Linked DNA regions of Homo sapiens: region 2 is reported to be linked to region 1. Evidence: microRNA targets listed by miRTarBase, many of them from high-throughput screens and not tested one by one. Region 1 holds a microRNA gene; the other region holds the end of a gene's coding sequence.

The links. Region 1 holds the annotated microRNA hsa-miR-4776-3p (CUUGCCAUCCUGGUCCACUGCAU, at 2,337-2,359, opposite strand). A microRNA usually pairs through its seed, bases 2 to 8, with sites in the 3' UTR of a target mRNA and lowers its output. Matches are read on the target gene's strand: a 7mer-m8 pairs with bases 2 to 8, a 7mer-A1 pairs with bases 2 to 7 and ends in A, and an 8mer does both.
Region 2: the mRNA of MMUT is a reported target of hsa-miR-4776-3p. Seed matches in the 3' UTR shown: 7mer-A1 at 2,222-2,228.

What each region holds. Positions count from the first base shown.
Region 1 is chr2:212,923,925-212,928,286 of GRCh38, forward strand. MIR4776-2 (microRNA 4776-2) reads right to left here and starts at 2,412; the gene lies at 2,333-2,412. MIR4776-1 (microRNA 4776-1) reads left to right here and starts at 2,333; the gene lies at 2,333-2,412.
Region 2 is chr6:49,429,034-49,432,033 of GRCh38, forward strand. It overlaps MMUT (methylmalonyl-CoA mutase), which reads right to left. Exons shown (of 13, transcript NM_000255.4): 13 at 1,327-2,823. The coding sequence ends at 2,695. Among named protein-coding and RNA genes, the nearest start is that of MMUT, 33 kb to the right of the region's middle.

The DNA.
Region 1 (4,362 bases):
ATTTCTAAATGCATACTAACAAGTATATTTATAAAGACAGATTTTATTACCTGATTGTATAAAGCAGAAGTCTCCTTTAACAGATTAAAAGAAGAGGTGGGTGGAATATGCTAACAAACAAAGGTCCATGTGTGAATCGGGGGATATTCAGGACTTAACTAGACTTCAGCAGACTCATTTAGGATCTTAAACACTGTCCCAAGTCCAAAATTCACATTTAAGCTGAGAGCAGCTAGGACTTTACTATCTATCTATGGTTTAAGTTGTCTTCCACTCGGCTTGTAAAGCCTAGAGTGTCACTGTTTCTGCCCACAGATAGCTGTCAATCTTGGCCCATAAGGAGATGGAACCATAGGAAATGTTTCATCTCCACTCCCAGCACTTCTTTCCATATAAAAAGATTTCCACTAGCACAGCAGTCCTGACATCTCTGTTCTCAGGAGAAGAGGGAATCATTTAATGTTATTGAGTCCCTTTACCTCCTCATTCTCTTGAGAGCTATGTGCATAGAGAAAGCATACTTTCTGCTCTGCTATTTCAGACCCTACATTTTAGAGTACATTGTCTAATGTTGGAAATAAGGTAGGTAAGTCTCTCTAAATCTGAGATTCAGTGATAGTAAGGCGATCCTCCAAAATCAACTTTAACAATGATAAAATTGATAATTTCCTCTCTATCTATCTTACTCTGTTTTTCAATGACTCAGACTCAGCTGGAGAAGAGAGATGTTCCCTCTCTTGAGCTCACTAAAGACATTCAACAACATGTAATACAATGGGTGGGACATTTGTCTTTTCCAGGCCAAGGAAAAGGAAAACAAACTTAGGTCCCCAAAGACTTAGGATAAAATATCACAGATATAAACTTAGCAAAGTTGAACTCAGCTGTTAGAAAATGGAATTGGATTAGTTTCCTGTGGCTGCTATAACAAATCACCACAAACTCAATGGCTTAAAACCACATAAACTTATCCTCTCACAGTTCTAGGGGACAAAACTCCAAAATCAGTTTCACTAGGCCTACATCCAGGAGTTAGCCAGGCCATGCTCCCTCTGGGAACTCTAAGAGAGAATCTGGCCTTTCCTCTTCCTGCTCATGGGACTGCCAGCACTTCTTGGCTTGTGGCTGCATCACTCCCATCTGCCTCCCTGATCACATTGCCTTCTCCTCGTTGTCAGCTCTCCCTCTGCCTCTCTCTCATAAGGATATACGTGACTGCATCTAGGGCCCATTCTAATAAGCTGTGATAACCTCTTCATCACAATATCCTTAACTTAATCATACCTATAAAGACCTTAAATTTTTAATGTTTTAATTGTTTTTAATTTAAAAATGTCTTTTCTTAGGTTCCTACAGACAGAAACCTTTTTTCTGTATCAGGTAGTATTTACAGATTCTAAGGATTAGGACCTGACGTCCTCGGGGGACTATTTTTCCACATGAGTTCAATAGTCTTGAATAAATATCATTTATATCTCTTTTCTTCTTTTCTCTATGTTCTGAAATTTTACAATTTAAGATGCAAAAATATGTGGTCTAATATCATAGTTTTAGAGAATTAAGAAGGTAAATTCATCCTAGAGTTTGGATCAAACAAATAATATTTAGAAGGAATATATCATAAGGTGATAACTTTGTATGTCGGTATATATGTAAGTGTGGGTGTGTGTAAATCATTAAATTTCCATATATATACCATATAATTTTCTACCTGAAATGTTGTGAGTTAAATCAAAAAATGTAAATTATTCCTACATATCATTAATATTATAAATTCAGGACCATAGTTATTTATATATTTATTTTTAAAATTCTGGTTGAAGCATTTGGTGAAACAGTTCCAGAATTGAGTTTTTTATTCTTTCTATATGTGGAGCATATGGTAAAATTATTCCTATTTCTAATATGAGTTTGGTATTTTATTGTTAAACTCTAGAAAACAACCACCTTTTAGCCAAGAACCTTTGCCCTCTAAGACACACTCAATTGTATTTTACTTTTGCTACCAACATTTAGGGGTTAGTTTACTTTGTGTTATCATATTCCACCAATATTCAAAAGATTTATCACTTGGCAAGAGTTACTGATGACACTCCATGAGTAGGAAACCTCAAATCTTGGTGAAGGGCAGGCACTGAGCTTCTGCTAAGCACTCTCACTAGCTAAGAAACTTGTGCTACATACTACATGTGCCCTGTTTCAGTTAGGACAGGCTATGATATCGTAACAAATAGACCGCCAAATTCAGCTTCTCATGTTTGAGGGAAAAACACATCTATCTCTCTTTTGGACAACAGTCCAGGATGAGGGTTCCAGGTCAGTGGGAGCTCGGCTATATGCAGTGGACCAGGATGGCAAGGGCTCTCCTGAAAGGACAGTAGAGCCCTTGCCATCCTGGTCCACTGCATATAGTCTGCTCCATCTCAGGAAGCCAGAAGGTAGAAGGGGATGCAAAAACACAGCAGTGCAAGAGCTCTAGTATGTGGCCACACAGAATTGCAATGGAGACTGGGAAGTATAGTCTAGCTGTGTGCTCAGGAAGAAGAGGAGAAGGGATTTTGGTAAACAGCTGGCAGTCTTTGCTGCATGCATTATTTCTGCCTCAGCAAAATAAAAGTTGACTATGTAAAACAGAGGTCATGTGTGTAGAGGTCATTGTGTATACCCTTGGGATATACACAAGCATTCAAACCAATGAATAGTGAGAATTTATTCTACCCAAGCAACTATTTATGCCGAATATTCAGAAGGGGAGGGGAGCAGGAAAGAAATGGTTTATTTTCTTTAAATTATTGAAAATATTAGCTTATATCAATTTTCTCAAGTGATGAAAATGCAGGGGTTAAGCCTTTATTTTTTTTTTAAAGTAAATATTAGTATTATGTAGTATATGTTAAGAAGGTTTTTTTCTCTTCATTTCTTAATCTATTGAGGGAAGGACTAGGCAAATGAAGTTAGGCTTCTTTTCTCAGGGGGCCTAACTGTTGGCCCAGGCTGGGTTCCAAGAACTAATACAAGGAATGGTAACTGGTGGGGTTGTCTTTTTGCTGAATGAAGAGAAGAAAAGAAGAATTCCAAGTCTGTTTCCCAGGCACAGGAAGGACCAGGAAGCAAGGAAACTTCCAATTTTCAAGTCCACTGAGCAGAATACAAGAACAGGGTCCAAAACAAAGAGTTCTCCGTTGAGAACCGGCAAGATGGAGCAAGCAAGTCCTGCAGGCAGGCTGGGCCTGGAGAGGCGCCAAGAGGCCACAGCACTCTTGGGAGGAGGTTTTTCTGGACTCTTGAGGAGCTGAGACTTTTATATTCCAACCCTGCCTTTAATTTGAGGTTTGCCTCCTCCCTCCATTTGCAGAAGAGTAATCCGAAGCTAAATCATTCATAACATGAGAATGCTGATCTGTGTCCAGCCCTTGTGAAGGGAAAAGAAAACAAAACTTCACAAACATAATTAGTAGAACTACCTATAAAACCTAATGTTAAAAGAGAAATTAGCTTTCATGGAGAGAAAGTGTGATGGCATGACACAGAAATTAAGTGCACTGAATTTAGATTTGAAAAGAGTTTGATTCAATTCATGTCCCTGCTTCCCAGTAGTCCGTGACCTTGGGCAAGTGACCTATACTCTCTAAATCTTAGTTTCCTTATCTGTAAGATGGGAGATGAAAATAATACCTAATTCATATTTTTTAAGAACTTAATGAAAGAATGTTCAAATGTATCTAATAAGGTATAGGAACTCAACACATGCCAGTTAAACAAATTTCTAATAATTGACTTTCTTATTTCTTCCTTTCTGGGTAAAACAACTGTCCTTTGTATACTTTCATTTTTTGGAGACAGAGTCTCACTCTGTCTTTTTTTGGAGACAGAGACTCACTCTGTCATCCAGGCTGAAGTGCAGTGGTACGATCTCGGCTCACTACAACCTCTGCCTCCCAGTTTAAACAATTCTCCTGCCTCAGCCTCTCGAGTAGCTGGACTAGGACTACAGGCGGGAGCCATCATGCCTGGCTGGTTTTTTTTGTATCTAAGTAGAAATGGGGTTTCACCATGCTGCCCAGGCTGGTCTTGAACTCCTGAGCTCAGGCAATCCACCTGCTTCAGCCTCTCAAAGTGCTAGGATTACAGGCGTGAGCCACTGCACCCGGCCTGCCCCTTGTATACATAAAAAACAATCAATCAAATCTTCCTCCATGACCCCTTAAGCACTATTGAGTAAAGGTGGGATCTTAAGTTGTGACAACTGATATATGTAAAATGTCAATTTAAGAACATCTCCTTTCAGACATGAGTATTTCCCTGCAAACTTAGGTTTATGTCTAAGATCTTAAGGAAATAAATACTATAAAAAGACATAGT
Region 2 (3,000 bases), not on the chromosome of region 1:
GGAGTTGGGGAGCAAGGCAAGGGAGAACATCAGGACAAATACCTAATGCATGCAGGGCTTAAAAAACTTAGATGATGGGTTGATGGGTGCAGCAAACCGCCATGCCACATGTATATCTATGTAACAAAACCTGCATGTCCTGCACATGCATCCTAGAACTTAAAGTATAATTTAAAAATACAAAATAAAAATAATAAAAAGGGTTTGAACCTTTCCTGAGCCCAGACTCCAGTCATTGAATCAACAATTGCTCTCCCTTCCGTCTATTATCTTCCTTCCTGACTGGTTCCCTGAAGAAAACAAGCTTCAGCTTATGCCTGTGGGGTTCCAGCCGGCTCATAAACACACACACACACACACACACACACACACACACACACACTCATACACACGTCTCCTACTGATTCTTCTTCTCTGAACCCTGATTGGTAAGAGTTTAAGTTAGTTAATGCCTGAGTTCCCTATTTCTTCAGTTCAGGTGTGGATATGTGTATATGGTGTGTTTCTCACAGATGAACTCTTGATTCTTCATTAGCCTATAAACAAAGCAAAGATATCTAGATCACACTGGCTATGAATGCAAAATCTTCTTCCTATCTCTGTCAGTTGCCTCACTGGCATCATGCATCATAAATATAATCTTATCAAAGATGAAATAACTGTAACTAAGATTGGGCACTATTAGATTGATGAAGTGCTCACCTGTGAAACAACACATATCAGTAAGTTAAATTGCTTTGTGCAGTATGTTTTGGTTGTGCTGGAATCTTCTATTTTGAATCAGATGTTTTCGATGAAAGGAAATGAGGAAAGTAGTTGTCTTCCTGATCCATTAATTATTTTCTTGTACTATTTGGTGAATATCGGATAGCTTATCTGTATAAAATATCTATCCACTTTTTTAATATACTTGGTTATTTTCCTGATCATTTCCAAAAGTCAGCTCATTGTTGGGCATACAAGTTTTCATCCAAAAATAAGGATAGTAATAAAGGTCGGATGAAATTTCTTTTGGAATCTTTTGGAATCTAAATAACACTAAAGTGTTTAAGTTTTAACACTTTCTCGATTTAATAATAATGAGAAAATTTAATCTTAGAGTCAGGCCAGATTTCATTTCTATGAGTTATGCCACTGGATATTTCAGAAAATAGGTTTTCAATAGTAAGGTTATTGGAGCCAGTACTTCTGACTTCGGGTAAACACACACACACAAACACACACACACACACACACACACACACACAATGGATGTGAAATTTGGTAGCAAGTGGCTGCTATTCTTCCTCCCAAAGTAGTCTACTCAAAAGATACTGTCAAGAGCTGTAAATTCCTCAAGGATGAGTTTATTTCACATGTCACCCAGCACGCAACTGAACACATCACAGAAACCAAATACTTACTAAATTAGTGTGCATTGCTTTACAAGGAAAAGTCAATAAAATGGCATAGTGAATATATCATTGGACTTGAAGTCAGTGTTCATCTGAAAATGGGAACAATAATCATGACAATACCATTCAGATAATCATATTCTGAAAATTAAATACATTGTATTACAATGAGTTTGTAAATTCTACAGTAATGTATCTATAATACTTTCCAAAAGACTGCTCTCTGATCTAATACAATAGAAATTTATTAAAAAAGATAATTATTTATGTTATATTCATGTAATGGATCATGTTAACAATAAAGGACAACTTTCCTTTTTTATTTAAACTTTTTTTATTTTACATTCTGGGGAACATGTGCAGGATGTGCAGATTTGTTAAACAGGTAAATGGCAACTTTCCTTCTTTAGTGAGCAAATCTTTCAGTAAGCAAAGTACAGGTGTTCTCTGTGATATTTTTATTTTTGCAATTTATGTTTAAGGAGCAAATCTATGCAAGGTAGCATCTTTCTAGATCTGGAAAGTTGAATTCTTTCTATATCACAGACCTACACTCACAGTTGACATCACCATTCTAGACAAAGCCATAACTACAACCTAAGCACTTTTATTTAAAGGAATGTTCATCAACATCCACTCTCCTTGGTCTTGAGCCAAGCCCAGAAATAACAAGGTCAGATGGTCATGATCAGGAAGAAAGTAAACTCAGACTTGAAGAAATATACTGTCAAATTCCCCATATTCCAACCTGCTGTGCTTGATTTTAATACTTCTTTTATTAAGGTGATTCTGGTAGAATTTGGCTGAGGACTCCTCCCAAAATCTCTTTTGCCACGTAAATACACTCCACTAGTTTTTCAAGATAGGTTTTTATTAATATATGGATTTTATTTTCTGGTGCTCAAGACAATGTAATGCTAAACTGACAAATGGGAATAGTCAGAGTTTTTTTAGGTACAGTTTAATTCTTAATATAAAAAGTAAACAGATTTATAAGAAACATTCTAATAAATACATCACCATGATTTTTAAAAATAATACCATTGTCCAGAGTTCTTGATAAAGTATTGTTATAGAGAGTATAGAGAGTTTTTAGGGATTTTTTTTTTATTTTTGAAGTGAAACTGTATGTACATACTTATAGCATGACACCAGGCCTATAAGTAAGGTATTTTAAAGTAAAGCTTTCAAGGAAAGTACAAATCAGGTATTGAAATTAAATTGAAGACATAGCTTTACTCTCTTCTTTGATCATAACTAAAATAATATTTTAGACAAAAGCTAAAACAAAAAGAGGATATTATACAGATTGCTGCTTCTTTTCCAAACACTTCTCAATATCATCAAGCACCTGAACGGCAGCCTTTGGAATTCGAGTCCCAGGACCAAATACATTGGAAACACCAACTTCAAACAGAAATTCATAATCCTGTTGAAAGAATGTGTTTAATTAATAAGAGCCACTATTTCCATTTTCACGGAAATAAAACCCTATCCTTTCTTCTTTGTCACTCAATTACCCAAAACCTTCTCAACTGGTATACTACTGGCATTTGGGGCTAAAAAATTCTTCCTTGATTGGGAGTGCTACTAATAGTCATCAGCA